Linked DNA regions of Homo sapiens: region 1 is linked to region 2. Evidence: fine-mapped expression QTL. A gene starts in region 2. The other region holds a variant in brackets. All regions are shown on one strand. Distances are between the middles of the regions.

What was found.
Region 1: its variant is fine-mapped to the expression of LINC00941 in fibroblasts (GTEx, PIP above 0.99).

The regions. Positions count from the first base shown.
Region 1 is chr12:30,694,901-30,697,799 of GRCh38, reverse strand. It overlaps IPO8 (importin 8), which reads left to right and starts at 1,931. Exons shown (of 25, transcript NM_006390.4): 1 at 1,931-2,236. The coding sequence starts at 2,153. RefSeq lists an enhancer at 1,542-2,041 and a silencer at 2,132-2,181. The variant C/T (reference allele first, on the strand shown) is at 1,283.
Region 2 is chr12:30,793,845-30,796,743 of GRCh38, reverse strand. LINC00941 (long intergenic non-protein coding RNA 941) reads right to left here and starts at 1,063. Exons shown (of 5, transcript NR_040245.1): 1 at 528-1,063. RefSeq lists enhancers at 272-773, 774-1,273, 1,776-2,275, 2,276-2,777.

The sequences.
Region 1 (2,899 bases), 99 kb after region 2:
GAGTGCTAAGTTTATATTTTATTTTGAAATTGATGAGAAATCAAGGAAGAGACATAGTAATATTAACTTTTCAGAAACTTTCTTCTGATGATAGTGTGAATAATGGATTAAAGAGGGGCAATACTGGAAGCAATTAGACATGTTAAATTCACTGTGAAGCACTTTTGCATCCAACTGAGGGGGAAGCTTTCAAGCCACCAAGTTTTCAGCCACATGTTTTCTACTCTCTCAATTGAACTCAGTTAATTGACCCAATCTATCTTAATTATCTGCTCCTGAAAAGATCACAGCCCCTCAGCTGTGTTTTGCCCACATCATCATCTTTATTAAATGTAATTAGAACCCTCTCTTCTGGGTTAACCTCAGGAAGAACCAGCTCCTTGATATTTTCATGCCATTGAAATTGTGGCGCCAGATATGGCCACAGTGGATAGAAACAGTATAACTTTTCTGCTTACCTTTCACTACATTTTTGAGAAGGTCTGAAAATTTTTCATAAAACTCTCAGGGATGTAGTTTTCAGTTTCTGTGACCTTTGTCTTTCTGAAATGGGAGAGGTTCCCTTGTCCCCCTCACAGGGCGTGCATTGGGGGTGTGGCTCGCTTCTTCAGTGCCCCGCTGCTCAGACCTCTAGAGAAGCATACAGACCGGCAGGCTGTGGGGCTCCGACCCCTTGACAGAGTCTGGGGGTGAATGTTTACAGCTCCTGAAGCCCCAGTGGGTGTGTGTTACAGGATGCTCTTTCAGTTTGCCTTTAGGGGGCTTGTGTTAACCAGCTCAATTAGACCCTCTACCTTGTCGCACAGACAGCGAGCTTTCTGTATCCTGGGTTCTTGCCTTGGTGTACCAGAAGAATTGGATCACACGTGGGCTTGGAGAATGAGTGCAAAGTTTTATTGAGTGGAAGTAGCCCTCAGCAGATGAGGGACCCAGAAGGGAAATGGTTTTCCTCTGGAGTTAGGCCGCTTGGCGGCCCGGGCTCTTTTCCGACTGCCCAGGCCAACCTCCGCATCGTTCTGCCCGTGAATGGCCTGCGGATGTGCCAGCGAGCTCCTCTTCTTCCACCCTTATGCTCCTCTGGACGTCTGGCTGCCTGTGTACCTGCCTGCTAGGGTCTGGGGTTTTCATAGGCACAGTATGGGGGAGTGGCAGGCCAGGGTGGTCTTGGGAAATGCAACATTTGGGCTGGAAGGCAGGAGTGTCAGTCCTCACCTAGGTCGGTGGGCGTGGAGCCCTAGCAAGGGACCACACACTCCTCTACCCAGCACTTCACTTCGCCCAT[C/T]CCTATCATTTAAAGGGACCACGCTCTTCCCTTCCCAGCACTCCCCTATCATTTCTACACTGTAAATTTTTTTTGTTTATATTTGTCTCATCTATCAGGTTGTGAATTCCTTCACATTAACTTGCATGGAATTCATCTTGTTATAATGTGGTACCTAAAAATCCTAGTACTCTGGTTCAAAAATATATGTTTAACAAATGTTCAGTGAAAGCGAATGAATGAATGAACGATGACTCCCACACACGGAGGAACCCTGTCCTCCTGTAAGGTACATGATTTGAAGGTCCCAACAAGTCTATCTTGGAACAGGCCCAGTTGCGATGCCCATACAGTTCTCGGACTAACAAAAAGTGTCACACCATCCAGATATGCTTAATTTGGAAGCAGCTGTAAGCAGACTCCCGGCCAGCTCAAGTTTCCTCACCTGGGAAGAGGCGGGAGGCTGTTTACCGTACGGAAGCATAGCGGCCGCCTGCCTGAGTTCGGGAGCGCGGGTTCCTTTCCGGGAAAGAAGCCTAGGCCGTTTTCCGTACAGCAGCATGGCGGCCGCCGACGGGAGGCGGTCATAGCATCACGCCCGGGGGAAGAGGCCGCCGTAAAGGAAGCTCTGCTTCCTCTTCTTCCTTCTCCCGCCTCCCACCGGCTGTCGTAAAACGGTGAATGGAGAGCGAGTTGTGGGGGGGAAAAAGGGAGGACAGGGGGCGCGGAGTCAGAGTGGCGCAGCAAGTGGCCGCAGGTGGCGACGGTGGCGGGGGGTGGGGTGTGAGGTAATCCAGGGGTCGCGGAAGAGGAGGCTGAGAGGGTCAAAAGAAAACTAAAGCTGCAGTCCGGCCTACTGTTCCGGGGGCCGCGGAGCCCCCACCCGGGGAGATGGACCTCAACCGGATCATCCAGGCGCTGAAGGGCACCATCGACCCGAAGTTGCGGATTGCAGCCGAGAACGAGCTCAACCAGGTGAGGAGAGGGTCTTCGGCGACCCTCTTCCGCCGAAGGGGCGCCCCTGCCGGCTGGCCGGGCTCCCTCTCCCCGGCGCCCCTCGTCCTCACCCCCACCGGGCTGGGGCTGACGCCTCACGGCTGGTCCCGCTCTCCGACCCCGCTGCCCCCCGGTCCAGTGGAGCAGGGCTCCCAGGATCTTTGCCGAACAGCTCGCGCACCTGTTGGCCACCTTTGCACCTTTTCGTGTCGTCTCCCTTCTCCAGGGCAGTTTGTTCTGCCTACTTGGTCCGCAAGAAGCAGTTTTTGCAACCTGTGCTAGTGTTTTCAGGGTGTGATTTATTTTCCTTAAGTGCGCGGACTTGGGGAGCAGGTGGGAATTTTACTTACAGTTCAAATCTGAGTTCAGCTTTTTTCCAAACCCAGCCCTTTTTAGGTGTTGCTGTGGAGCACGCTGCCCACCGCCTCCTCCTGTCGGGTTGGCAGGACTGTTTTGACACCGATTGGCCGAGTTTTGCGGAGCGCTGGGCAGTGCTGTTGGGAGAGTGCTCTGGGAAGAATAGGCAGTTTTCATGGTGATACTGCTTTATCTAAGACACATCAAAGTAAGATGTGTTGGAGAAATTTCTTATGAATGCTAAAATGTGTAAGACTTCTTTCTTTTCTCCGTCTCCTGTTCTTC
Region 2 (2,899 bases):
AGGGCAGAAATTAAATTTGGGGGCCGGCTAAGGCTAGAGAGTAAGGTGACGGCTCGCCCCGCGGGTTTGGAGCTGTGCGCTGGGGGCCAAGGGAGCAGCGGGAGGAGCGCATGCCTGGGGCGCACGGGCCGGGAGGGGCGGGAGGAGAGCCCAGTCCCCAGCTCAGATTACTCTCCTAGGCATGGTCCCCACCAGAGCCGGGGCTGGAAGCTGGAAATCCGAGTAGAGCTGACTCGGACTTAGCTGCCCAAGGGAAAGCCTCCGGGCGGTCCTCGCTGCGCCCCTAGTCCGGGGCCCCGACCCCTCCCGGACACTGCTTGGGCCATGCGGGCGCCGCGTTGCCGGCCACTCGTCGTCCCGGGGTCCCAACTGGGGCCGCTCCTGCTGTTCTAGAGCTTGCTGGCCCCGGCGCGCCTCTCTTGCAGCTCCTGTACTACTCGAGGGGACCACGTCGTCCCGGAGGCGCGGCCATCGAGAGGATGCTGCGGCCGCGGGGCGGCGGGGGCGGGCGTTTCAGGGCTACTCACCCGAGCTGGGAAGGCAGGAAGTCTGTGCTGGCTGGGGGTTGGTCTCAGAGGGACTCTGGGGCTTGGACACAAAAATCGCGGCGCACTGGGGAGGACACCCGGAGCGGTGGGAACTGCGGTGTGGACCCGGGAGAAAAGGGGGTTGGAGGTGGGGGGAGATCGCGCGGCACGCGTTGCATAACCTGACCTGCCCTCCTGGGCTGGAGGCAGGAGTGACACCTCCGCCTGAGCCGCAGTTCAGAGAAGGCTACCGCGGCGCTGGGTCCTGCGGGACAGCCAGCAGGGCTGGGGTGGAATGGGGGCAGGGGAAGGAGCCCTGAGAGGAGCCAGGATGGGTCTGGACCTGGCTCCAAGTCGCGTGCCCTACACACCCCCTCTGCGCTGCCCAGCGGGGCACGGCCCGACCTCGGAAGGCCCATCCGGCTCTCAGAAGTGGCCGCTCTACCAGCTGCCCATAATGCTGCCGAGGAGCCTGTGCCAGTCCCACGGCTGCCGTGCAGCAAGCGGGCGGCCCGACTGACTTCAGCCACGTCCCCTGCGTCAGACAAGTGGGCGTCCCCTGCGTCGAGACAAGTGGGGGATCCGCGAGGCCTGCAGGGGCGCAGGGACCAGAGTGCTAAGACGTGGCATGACCTTTCAGGGAGAACTGCGCAGAGGGTGGCCAAGGGTCACCTCCCTCGAGGGGCGAAGCCCTGAGATGTGAGGATGATTCTTAAGACAGCGCCCTTCCCGCCCCTTCCAACCCCCCAGACCACCACCCGGGTCTGGGAACAGGGTGAGCGCATGGCGAGAGGTTGTCTGGTTTTGTAGCTATCAAGTTGTACCCCCGCTGTGCCCATAGGAAGTGACTCATCTGCTTGTCAGGTAGTGGCCTTGCTGTGAGCCAGGACCATATTAAGAAAAGAAAGAAAAAAAGGAGCAGCAAAACACTGTGCCCCTGCACAATGTGCTCTCCTTTCTTCTGCCCTCCCTCTCCTAGGCTGTCCTCTTCTTCCTCCACTTGTAGTTTGCTCAGCCCCCTCCCATCCACTGCCACCCCCGCCCAGTTGAATAATGCTCGTATCTGAGTCAGCGGATGTGAAACAAAGGGTTATTTCTCCTTATCTAATTTTGTGGAAGATTGACTAAAAGAGGGTGGAGAGTGTGTCTATTTAGCAGGAAAAAGATGTTTTTAACGTGAATAATATTGAGAAATGTGCTGTGACTTTCACTGTTGGGCAAAGCAGGGAGACGCCTGCCTAGCTGGCCCTTCCTGCAGGCTTGGTAAAAAGTCCTCTCCGGTGGAGGGTTGGTGGCCATTTGTCAGGTACCTAAAGAATACAAGGCGCTATGCTAGGAACTAGAACTGTACAGAAATATCCCGAAGGCTCTAATGTCATGGGACCTAACTCATTTCGGAGGAAGTAAGGCTTGAAGGTAGAGAACTATCTTGCAAGGCCGCCTGTGGCAAGCTCTTTGCACAATCAGTGAATGTACAGAAATCCAGGGTAAACAAAAATTACTTCCAACTGGGATATACTTCATAGAAAAGGCATCTGGGGTGGGGCGCAGTGGATAACGCCTGTAATCCCAGCACTTTGAGGGGCTGAGGTGGGTGGATCACCTAACTTCAGGAGTTCCAGACCAGCCTGGCCAGCCTGGCCAACACGATGAAACCCTGTCTCTGCTAAAAAAAATACAAAAAATTAGCTGGGCGTGGTGGTGGGTACCTGTAATCCCAACTACTTGGGAGGCTGAGGCAGGAGAATCGCTTGAACCCAGGAGGCGGAGGTTGCAGTCAGCCAAGATGGCGCCACTGCACTCCAGCCTGGGCAACGAGAGCAAAACTCTGTCTCCAAAAAAAAAAAAAAAAAAAAAGAGAAAAGAAAAAGAAAAGGCATTTGGACAGCCCTGGGGTTGGCAGAAGACTTCCGGATGGTAGAAGCCAAGGTCCTTGGGTGGGACAGGATAAGGTATGTGGCTAGAGTGGAGAATCTGTGTGGCAGGAATGTGAGAAAAGATGCCAGAAAAGGAGATAGGGACTCCTCTGTGTGTGGCATGGGAACTGGGCTTTGACTTTCATTGCATAGTGAAGCAACTGAAAGTCATGAGCAGGGGCACAGCGTGGCTCCAGAGAGGGCTGGAGAGAGATGCTTGCTGGCCATATTTGTCTGCAATCTTCCACTCTTCTTTCTTCTTACTCTACCCTTTTTTTTTTTTTTGACAGAGTCTCGCTCTGTCACCCAGGCTGGAGCGCAGTGGTGCCATCTCAGCTCACTGCAAGCTCCGCCTCCTGGGTTCAAGCCTTTCTCCTGCCTCAGCCTCCCAAGTAGCTGGGACTACAGGCACCCACCACCACGCCTGGCTAATTTTTTGGTATTTTTTTAGTAGAG